Regions from separate parts of the Homo sapiens genome. Here region 2 is linked to region 1. Evidence: fine-mapped expression QTL. A gene starts in region 1. The other region holds a variant in brackets. All regions are shown on one strand. Distances are from middle to middle.

What was found. PIP is the estimated chance that this variant, and not a neighbour inherited with it, causes the effect.
Region 2: its variant is fine-mapped to the expression of SH3RF1 in spinal cord (GTEx, PIP above 0.99). The same link has a PIP of 0.9 or more in putamen.

The regions. Positions count from the first base shown.
Region 1 is chr4:169,268,435-169,273,812 of GRCh38, reverse strand. It overlaps SH3RF1 (SH3 domain containing ring finger 1), which reads left to right and starts at 2,857. Exons shown (of 12, transcript NM_020870.4): 1 at 2,857-2,954; 2 at 4,506-4,993. The coding sequence starts at 4,601. RefSeq lists silencers at 2,227-2,376, 2,417-3,176, 3,417-3,636.
Region 2 is chr4:169,342,889-169,348,266 of GRCh38, reverse strand. No RefSeq gene overlaps it. Among named protein-coding and RNA genes, the nearest start is that of SH3RF1, 75 kb to the right of the region's middle. The variant A/G (reference allele first, on the strand shown) is at 2,677.

The DNA.
Region 1 (5,378 bases):
TTTTGTATTCTTACTAGAGACAGGTTTTCACCATGTTGGCCAGGCTGGTCTTGAACTCCTGACCTCAGGTGATCCACCTGCCTCGGCCTCCCAAAGTGCTGGGATTACAGGTGTGAGTGACCGTGCCTGGCCTATCCCAAACTTTTTTAAGACCCTGGGAAGAAAGGACTTTGCCCAGAATAACTGCCTGGGTGATTCTTGGCAGATTATGATAATGATGCTATCTGACTTTAATAGAGATATACAGATTACAAAGAACCAGCATGTTGTCTCATCTAGTCATCCCACAACACTCTGAGAAAGATATTTTTTTTTTCAACCATTTGACAGAAAATGGCTCAGGAGGTTAAAGTAACTTGCCTAAAACTTCACTTTACAGCTGGAGTAACTAAAGCTAATAAAAGTGTTGTGTTCTAAAAACTATAGAACATGCACCAGGGGCATTCAAAGAACTGCAGCCACATCCCAGATAATATTCATGAGATGTATGCCAGATTCTTCGACCACTGCAGTCTTGGGACACACTGTCTTCAGTTCTTTGAAAACGGGTGTGGCCAGGCGCCGTGGCTCACGCCTGTAATCCCAGCACTTTGGGAAGCTGAGGCGGGCAGATCACCTGAGGTCACAGGAGTTCGAGACCAGCCTGACCAACATAGAGAAACCCCGTCTCTACTAAAAATACAAAATTAGCTGGGTGTGGTGGGTGCCAGCCTGGGCAATAAGAGTGAAACTCCGTCTCAAAAAAAAAAAAAAAAAGAAAAGAAAAGAAAATGGGTGTGACTATTGATTTTCTTTTGCCAGGAGTTTCAAGAGCTGCACCATTCTATCTATGACCTTGTGTGCTGCTCTCTAAAAATACATAGGAAACCAAAATAAGAACACAATAAAAACTGTCCCTTGCTTTCGAGTAATTACATGATTAACAGTTTCTTCTTTCCCTTGGGAAGAGACACACTGCTTTGCTTTGCCTAGGGTGGGGATATGACGGTCCTGTGCAAAAGACAGGGCCTTGGAATGGTGCAAAGAGAACTGGACTTGGAATCCAGAGAGCTGGGACTGAGTCTTGGTTCAACATTACTTACTGTGTGACCAGGGGAAAGTTAACCTATTTGAGCTTCAGTTTTAATAACTGCAAATAATCCCTATCTGTTTATTGACTGTAATCTTCTGGTCAGCCTCATCTTCATCTATCTGCCCAGTTCCACATGCAGAACTAAGTAGTAACTTTCAGTTTGCAAACTGGACTAGAAATTCTCCATTCCATTCATTCCTTCCGTCGTCTTTCTCAGCTCAAATGCCCATGTATTTGCTCACTTCTAATGGAAGGGGAAGTGGGCTATTATTTTTGGTTTTCATACATTATGACTCTCAGCATATGAATCTATTTAGAACAAGGCTGAGAAAAGATGACATAGAGGGTTGCTGAGAGAATTGAACTGATGCATGAAAAATGTTCAGCACAGTGCCTGATTTACAGTGAGTGATCATTGTTAGCTGTCATAATTTTTTCAGGCTTATGTGATCCTTATGTCTTGAATGGTTTAGCTGTGGCCCTAGCTGGAGACTAGAGGATAAACTGAGACTCCTCGTCAAATCATAAACCTAGTTGGTGGCTGGGCAGAGATTTCTTGCATCATCTGTTGTAACCCTTTCTTCTTATAACCACCTAGTTTCTGCCCACCTTTGAGGAGGGGTATTTGGGATAACTTTTTGTAAATTGATGGTAAATGCAAATATAGTAATGTCAACTTTAGATCAGTGACAAAATTTTAACTTGCTTCTCCACTAAATCGAGACTGAAAAACCTCAAAACCTATGGACAAGATGTTTTTCAAAACTCCACTTCGGTTTACAGGTGTGTGCTTGGGGCAACCAAAACAAAGATTACTGCGATGATGGCAGCCACCCAGGCTCAGATAAAAGAGGCGCCTCTCAGCGTGCTTTGCGGTGCCAGCCCACCTGAGGTCAGACTCAATTCTCCCCACTTAGGGCAGGGATAACAGAGCCCCCGAGCCTGGGTTGGAAGTCCGTACTACCGTTTTCCTAGTCTTGGGCTTTGGGGTCAGCGGTCCTCCAGGCTTGCTCCGGTTTGGGTCCTGGGGTGACTGATGGCTGGGTGCGGACAGGTGGCCGCGGCACTGTCCCCATCGATTCACCACGCCGCTCTCGGCCCTAAGGGGCAACACTTCGCTCCGACTCTACCAAGTAAGTGTCCGGGGTGGGCAACCAGACGCAAAGCGCAGCGGGATCGGTTCCCGCCAGGGCTGCTCCCGCCGCCTCCGCGGACCCAGCCCCTCCCGCGCCGCGACTCGCCCAGCCTGGGGAGGAAGGGTCCGTCCAGGGCTCCCAGCCCCGCCGGGGGGAGGAGGAGGCGGCGGGACCCTGTCCCGGGGCTTCTTCCTGCTTCCCCCAGCCTCCACTCCCGCCGCCTTCCCGTCCGGTGGCTCCATTTTTCAGGCGCGTTCTCCTCAGGGAGAAGGCGTCCGTCCCCGAGCCTTCCCCTCGTAGTCCCCTGGGGGCCCCGCTCCCCATCCTCTAGGCTCTTGCAGCGCCCCCTCAGGCCGCCGCCCCAATCCCGCCCCCGGGCTCCGGCGGGGTACTGGGCGCAGGTCACCTCAGCGCGGGAGGCCGGCGCGGCGGCGGGTGGCTCCGAGAGGTGCCGCGCCCGCTCCCGGGGAAGGCGCTGTGGCGCGGGGCCGCCCCCTTGCGCCCCGGGCGCCGGCTGCGTCCCGGCCTCCTCCTCCTCTTCCTCCGCCCTCCTTGGCTGGGAAAGTGGGAGGCGGCGGCGGCGGCGTGGTGTGTGTGCGCGCGTGAGGGGGGCAGCAGAGAGGAGTCTCCCGGTGCCGCCGCGGCGTCAGAGACACTGCGAGCGGCGAGCGCGGTGGGGCCGCATCTGCATCAGCCGCCGCAGCCGCTGCGGGGCCGCGAACAAAGAGGAGGAGCCGAGGCGCGAGGTAGGGCGCGCGGCCGGCGCGGGGTCGACGGGGACCCAGCGTCGGCGGACCCCTAGCCGCGGAGAAGGCGGTGGTCTCGACATTCCCCCATCCCCGCCCTGGGTCGGTCTCTCTCTCCCCTCGCCCTCGGGTCCCCGTGGGCCGGGAATCAGGACCTGCGGAAGCGGAGCAGCCCGCGGCCTCTGCCTTCTCCGGGCAGGAAGCTGCCAGGGCTCCGTGCCGCGGTCTCCCCGGGCGCAGCCCAGCACCCCCTGCTTCCCGGATGGCGCGGTCTCTCTGGGGACTGTCGCCTTATCTTGGCTGGGCTAGAAAGCTGCTTCCCCGTGGCACTCTGTGGGGCTGAGTTTCGCAACTTAAGCCTGCGCATTTATTTTTAAGTCCTTGAAAACTTCCCGCAGTCGTGTAGAGGGATTTGTGTCCCCGGCCTGAGCTAAAGGGAGGCGGAGATGAGGGAGGCTGTAGGGTGAGATCCCCACGCCGGGACCGGCCGGGCCGCAGCCCCAGGCCGCGACCGGCTCCTGCCGGGTGCCGCCGACACCTGGCCCCGGGGTGTGTCTGCGGCGAGCGGCCGCCGCGCCTCCCTGCGGGCTTGGGAGTACCTGTGCTTGGCGCCGTGGGAGCGGGGGTGCAGCCCTGGGGCTCCCCCGCTCCGGCTTTGTCAAGAACAGCTGTTAATGCTCCCAGCCAAATCTTTTTACTCCCGTTCTCCTGGGCATTCACTTTTACATTTATTTTGGCGGTGGGGGGAGAGCGGCGCAGTAAGTGGCTTGCTTTTTCCTGAATGGCCTCATTTTCATATGCCCACAGTTTCCAGTCCAACCTTCCATTGTCGAATTCTTTTGGTGATAATTTTGCCAGCTTTTCTGAATGGGATTAGGACAGGCCGTTCAGAAATGTGTTTCAGAGTTTATCAACTACTGCCCTGAAGGGCGCTTTTCTGTTTTAGCTGCTTTCAAGCAAATCTGTGTCTTTTAGAATTGTCAACCTTCAGCTCTTTTTGGTTGGGCAAAATTAAACAGTTCTATTTTTAATAACAGCGAAGAAACATATGTATTTAATATTGGGATCATTTACCACGAGCGATTACATGAGGCATGGTTTCTTAAACGCTAAAGTGGCTTAAAAAAGGGAATTTAGTTGGATATAAAAGTAAATTTCAGGTAGAGGAAACTTTCAATGGCCTCTGTCAGCTTCTCCTATGAGTTGAAGACTTTATTAAGGCAGCTGATACCACTTTCAGAGCTTAAGAAATTATGTTCCTTATTGCACTTCATAAATCCTTCTGCGGGAATTATGTAATACTCTGTGCCTTGTGTTTGCCCAGTGAATCCCTAGATATCTTTAGGGGTTAATTTTGCGTTGTTTAGAAAGCCTGTTTTGTTTTCAGTTGTTGACTTTGGAGTTTAGGAACCCACATTCCAAAGCAAAGCTACACTATTCAGACAGGGAATAGTGTACTTTTGGGTACTTTTTGATTCTTGGCTCCTTTGAACTTTTTCCCTAGATAACAACACTCATGTTCTCTTTTCCCCCTTTTCCCCATGACTCTAGAGCAAAGTCTGAAATGGATGTTACATGAGTCATTTTAAGGGATGCACACAACTATGAACATTTCTGAAGATTTTTTCTCAGTAAAGTAGATAAAGATGGATGAATCAGCCTTGTTGGATCTTTTGGAGTGTCCGGTGTGTCTAGAGCGCCTTGATGCTTCTGCGAAGGTCTTGCCTTGCCAGCATACGTTTTGCAAGCGATGTTTGCTGGGGATCGTAGGTTCTCGAAATGAACTCAGATGTCCCGAGTGCAGGACTCTTGTTGGCTCGGGTGTCGAGGAGCTTCCCAGTAACATCTTGCTGGTCAGACTTCTGGATGGCATCAAACAGAGGCCTTGGAAACCTGGTCCTGGTGGGGGAAGTGGGACCAACTGCACAAATGCATTAAGGTCTCAGAGCAGCACTGTGGCTAATTGTAGCTCAAAAGATCTGCAGAGCTCCCAGGGCGGACAGCAGCCTCGGGTGCAATCCTGGAGCCCCCCAGTGAGGGTAAGTAGCCTACAGAGGTAGTTTGGTGAATAAAGGTGGTAATGTCCACATTTTTTCTTTATTCTTTAGCTTGGTGTTTTCGAAGTCAACTCATTGCTTAGGAAACCATACATACTGGAACAGATAGATTATACCTCTGAATATTTTTTTCCCCCATCTTGGAATGAGATTGGATATAAATAATAAATTTTATTGTTTTGAAAATTATCTCTAGATAGTCTCTGTTATCTTTTAAGATAAATTTTGGGAAACAAGTAGCAATTAGTGAATGAAATCTAAACCAGCTTTTGTTCTGTGCCCATTTTAAAATGGAAATTTGGTATTTTATCATTTTGATGGGGCTCAGAGTCATAATTACATGTATGTAGTACATATGTAGTATATA
Region 2 (5,378 bases), 74 kb before region 1:
CCTGGTGGGAGGTGGTGGGATCATGGGGGAGAGTTCTCATGAATGGTTTAGCACTATCCCCTTGATGCTGTTCTCATGATAGTGAGTTCTTGTGAGATCTGGGTGTTTAAAAGTGTGTAGCACCTCCCCCTTCTCTCTCTTGGTCCTGCTCCTGCTACATAAGACACCTGCTCTGGGTTTGCCTTCTGCCATGAGTAAAACCTCCCCAAGGGCTCCTCAGAAGCAGATGTCGCCATGCTTCCTATACAGCTTATGGAACAATTACCCAGTCTCAGGTATTTCTTTATAGCAGTACAAGAACGAACTAATACACCCCTCTAGTTTGGGTACAACCTTGACCAATAGTCTACAATCTATTTAAGTTTCACTATGAATAGCACACTCTATGTAAAATAAAGCAGAAAAAGGAGAAAGAAGTTTCAACTTAATTAAAATATATAAACTTATATTCATTCAATTAAAAAGAAAAGAAGTGTTATTCATTTTATATATTCTACAGAAAAACTATCAATCAAGCTGGAGAAATTTTGATCCATATAGAATCTTTGTGTTCTATTAAAATGTACATACATAAAAACACACTTTAAAACTTTTCATTTCCTGGTTAAAATTTTAGTGATAACTCAAATATAGTTATAGTTTATCAACAGAAACATAATTCTGAACTGCATTTTGCTCTTGATAGAATGTTATGTTTTATTGGGATTTATGAACTCATTATTCTTGTAGATGATTGTCCTGCCAGACCTCTATCGAGTTGGATAGGGATGGCACCGCGTTCAAGAGGCCGAAGGAGAACTGGAGCCAGCAAACAAGACACGAGGTTTACTGAGGTTTATTCTTTTCTCTACAGGTTAAAGCTGGAGTGCACCACTGAGATAACACAATGTGGTCTGACGCCTCCTATACTGATGAGATTAATAAGATTAATACAATGAAATTAGTTTCCCAAAGCCACATTGCTTGCATCAGCAACCATCATTACTCACAGATCTTGCCCTATTGTAATCTTGGTCAGAGATTATAACAGTTGAAGCAGGTTTGAGGACTACGAGGCATAATCCCTCTATAAAGAATCTTATCCTGTCACAGTCCCGCTATCTCCATGTCTGACAACTTCACTCTATGGAGAATACTGTGGTCTTTTTTTTTTTTTTTTTGTTTGAGACAGGCTTACTCTCGTTCAGGCTCGAGTGCAGCGGCTTGCTGTATCCTCCGCCTACCGGGCCCAAGCAATCCACTCGCCTCAGCCTCCCGAGTAGCTGGGACCACAGGTACTTGCCACTGTGCCTGGCTACCTTTTTTGTATTTTTGGTAGAGACGGTTTCCCCCATGTTGCCCGGGCTGGTCTCACACTCCTGAGCTCAAGTGATACGCCCGTCTCGGCCTCCCAAAGTGCTAGGATTACAGGTATGAGCCACTGCATTCAGCCTTTTTTTAAACTTTATTTCAACTTTCTCTTTTAAAGTCAAATACTGTGGTGTCTGCATTGGAAATGTATGGCCCAGTGACCACAATAACATTAATAATGTCTTATTTTTTAGAATGCTTCAAATATTTTATTTAGAATCATTGAATTTTGGAGTGGAACGGTGACTTACATATCCAGTCGTATGGTTCTCAATCTTGGCTGTTTAGTGTAATCACCTGGGGAGTTTAAAAACCACTGATGCTGATTAAACCCCACAGATTTCAATTTAATTGGTGTCAGGTGTGGTCAGGACACTAGCGGTTTAAATATCCCTAAATGAGTCTAATATGCTGTCAGGTGTCTCTGATATCATCTAGCTACTACTTCCCTCTCCACATTCATTTTATAGATTAAGGGAGGCTTGGAGAGTGTTTGCCTTGCTCATAATCGCCAGCTGGTTAATCATATTTAGTTTGAAACATCAGTTTAGCCCCCTTTTCCTGATAAGGACCAGGACCAGTGGGTGAACTTGAGATTTTCACTTGCAGGACTGCCACAGGCTAAATTGGGACAGTTGGCAGCACCTGTCCTTGGAGCTTCTAGAACTGCCACAAAAGACAAGACTCATTACTGAATCAAAACATCTCTGTGAGGTTGGCGTGAATTACCTCCAGTTTATAGGTGATGAAACTAGTGTTGAGATAGGTTTTCACAAGTCACATAGTTATATTGGGAAACTTTTGAACAAAATCCTGCTATAATTACCTCTAAAGTACACCTAAATTATCTTCTTTTATTTTTAGGAATCATATCCCTTGTCTTTGCACTTAAAACTTAATTGATTCCCAGCCTTACTCATAAACTGAATGAAAGGAAACAGTCTTAAAATAAAAAGAGAAATGCATTATTGTATGAAGGTATAAACACTTTCACCCTTGCGGCCATTTCTGGTTAACAAGGTTTTTTTAAAATGCCAATAATTTATTTATCATGGCATTCATATAAGAGGATTTTTCTAATGGGAAATATTAACTGGCATGAGTAAAATGCATGAGGTTGTATGTAAAAGGATCATACACAAATAACTGCATTTGTTAATCCTATTCTGAGAGCGGGAGGTAATTATGGCTTCACTGGGAAGGCTTGCCTGAGTAAGCATTGACCAGTCAGCCTGCTGACATTTGGAATCCTGTTGGCAAAACTCTCCTGTCACCACCAGATGTGAACCCCCTGGCATTGAAACGGGGGGGTTATTCAGAAGAACA[A/G]TGACTCTGGTTGATGACAGGGGGGTGAGTGCACAAAAAAGGGCCATCCCTTGACTGCCTAATTCACAGTGACTCATGCTTTGACCTCTGAGGAAACAGTCACATCTTTCACACTGTTGCTTCTAACTTCTTTTTATTGGAAGCCTAATGGTTATTGAAAATGTTCCACTGGGGGCACATTCTTCAGCTGTCCAGTCTCTCACCAGTTGCTGACCAAACCCAGAAGCTGGTGGGAGTGCTTCTCTTTCAGCCCCTGCGGATATCCCTGGCCATCCACCTGTGGCTGGACAGTCCCTGTGCCTGCTGTGTGGGGTCACTGTAATTCCTTAGAGTCTTGGAGATCTGACAAACTGCCCATAAAACGTGCTGCCCCACCCATTGCCTTTCTTCGGTAAAGGTTAAAGGAACAGGGGGTAAGAATTCTCTCTCCTTTTCACTGATGTTATTGATTTCCAGAATGTAACAAAAATATATCTGATAGATACATAAATATGTAGGTAATAAATACTAGTTCTCACCCCTCCCATTTCTCTCTCTCTCAGCAAATAAAAAAAGATTGAAAGAAAATACACCAAATTGGTAAATAGTGGTGGAGGTTTTTTTTTAATCTACTTTGTTACTGTATGTTCTAATATATAAAACACATATTACTTATATTTACAAAAATAATATGTGAAATATATTTTACTTATATTTACAAAAATATGTGAAATATATTCTACATATATTTACAAAAATAATTTGTAAAATGTTTTTCTGGTATTGGTGTAAACAATCCTATCTCTTTGATCTGTGGCAGTCTAATTAGCTAAGGCACTGATTTACCTTACAACCAGGAAGATGGGTTAAGATATTGCTGCTATGAAAAGGCAACATCCAGGATCCTGGTGGTGATGGAATGTTCTATATCTTGGCTTTATCCATGTCAATATCTTGGTTGTGACATTGTACTATAGTTTTGCAAGATGTTACCATTGGGGAAAACTGGTTAAAGGGTATATGGGATCTCCTGTTTTATTTCTAACAATTACATGTGAATGAACAGTTACCTCAAAATAAAAGGTTTCCTTTTTTAAAAGCCCATAAAAGATATTGCTCAGCTATTTCTTAGGTACATCATCATTACCCATCTTAGAGTCATTCTGCAGGTGAAGATTTAATATTCTCTCCCAATGATTTTGATAGTACAAATTTTGTTGCATTGTCTTTAATATTTTAGGCCACAGAGATATATTTCAAAATAACTGTGAACACCTGAAAGAATAAAATGAAAATAAGCATTTTTGGGAGGCAATTCTCTGTGGGTCTCCAGTGTGTCTGCACATCTTGTGAGGCAGACATTGACCACCCTTTGATCTGGACTCTCTCTTCACGGAGGTTTGCTTAGTGAACCGCCTTAGGAGATAGAATGTCTCTGTTTAGAGCAAAGGGCGGGTATGCTTGTTGTCCACCTAAAATGTAGGTTCCCTAAGCTCAGGGTTCCTCTCCTAGAACACAACCCAAGATGTCATCTGGACCTCTTTGTGTCACCCTGTAGGAATTGGGGACCAGGGAACCTGTGAAAAAATGCTGATACTAAGGCTACTTCTAGTGCTGTAATAAATGGTCCCTTAGCATCTATGAAACTGTACCAGGCTAACTTGTTAACTTGTGAGTACGCTAAAATCTCAGACCCGTCACAGTTCTTGACAATTCTGGAGATGAGGATGGGAGGCTGACGGAGACGTGGCTGCTGGAACAGGAAAGCAAGGGTCTTGTAAGTGAGATAATGGGACCTAATGGAGCCCATGGGAGTTGGCAGAGGCATGTTGACTCCATTTTGTGGTCAACAGGACAATCAATGGTCTTCCACTTCATTGCCTGTTTATGAGGAGAAATCGGGAAGCTGGTTGCAGGCTGAACACCAGGAAGTAAATTCAAAGACAACTCCCCAACTACCTTGGTTGTTGCTAACTACCCTCCAGATGGAGGGCTTCCTTGCCAATCTGAGAGCAGCCTCAGGTCCACCCCATTGTAACTACTAGTACCAAGATTTGTTGTGGGTGGGCAGAAGGTTCTTCTGCCTTTTGAAATAAATGATATCAGCCACAAGGACATTGCCATCCAATGTGGAACCCTGTGAATGCCAAAGGCAATGCAAGTTCATTGGGCTGGAGTAATGAGCCATGCTCTACAAAAGTAAATGCAAAGCTTTTTTTAATGGGCAGAGCCACTCTCTCCTTCATGACTCATTGCTTTCCTCCTCCTCTACTTCAGCTTAACCACTTTAATGAGAAAAACAATTAGAGGTGAAGCTAAGGTCTCCCTGGTCCACATCAGGCCTCAAAGGTCATACTCATCTGTCCAAGTGTGCTGGAGATTTGAGGGGAAAGGAGAGACTTCCAATTTTATGGATCTATTAGATACCTATTAGATACAGGTCCCAAGTCACTGTCCTCTCTGGTCCTGTGGAAAGAGAGAATTCCCAACTTAACCAATGGAATTTGGGCAAGATTTGCAGTGGAGAAGGAAAGCTACAGTGGCCTTGTGCCAGAGCCCTTTGAGCCAATTTATGTGTGCTGTTGTGGACTCCACTGCTGAATGCATAATTATTATTAATGTTTTACATCCTTGTATTGTAACTGTCTAGAGGGGGTTCTCCTGATTCAGAAGAGTCACATTTAGAGACAAGTTAGTGAAACACATACATTGCTCTGCAGACC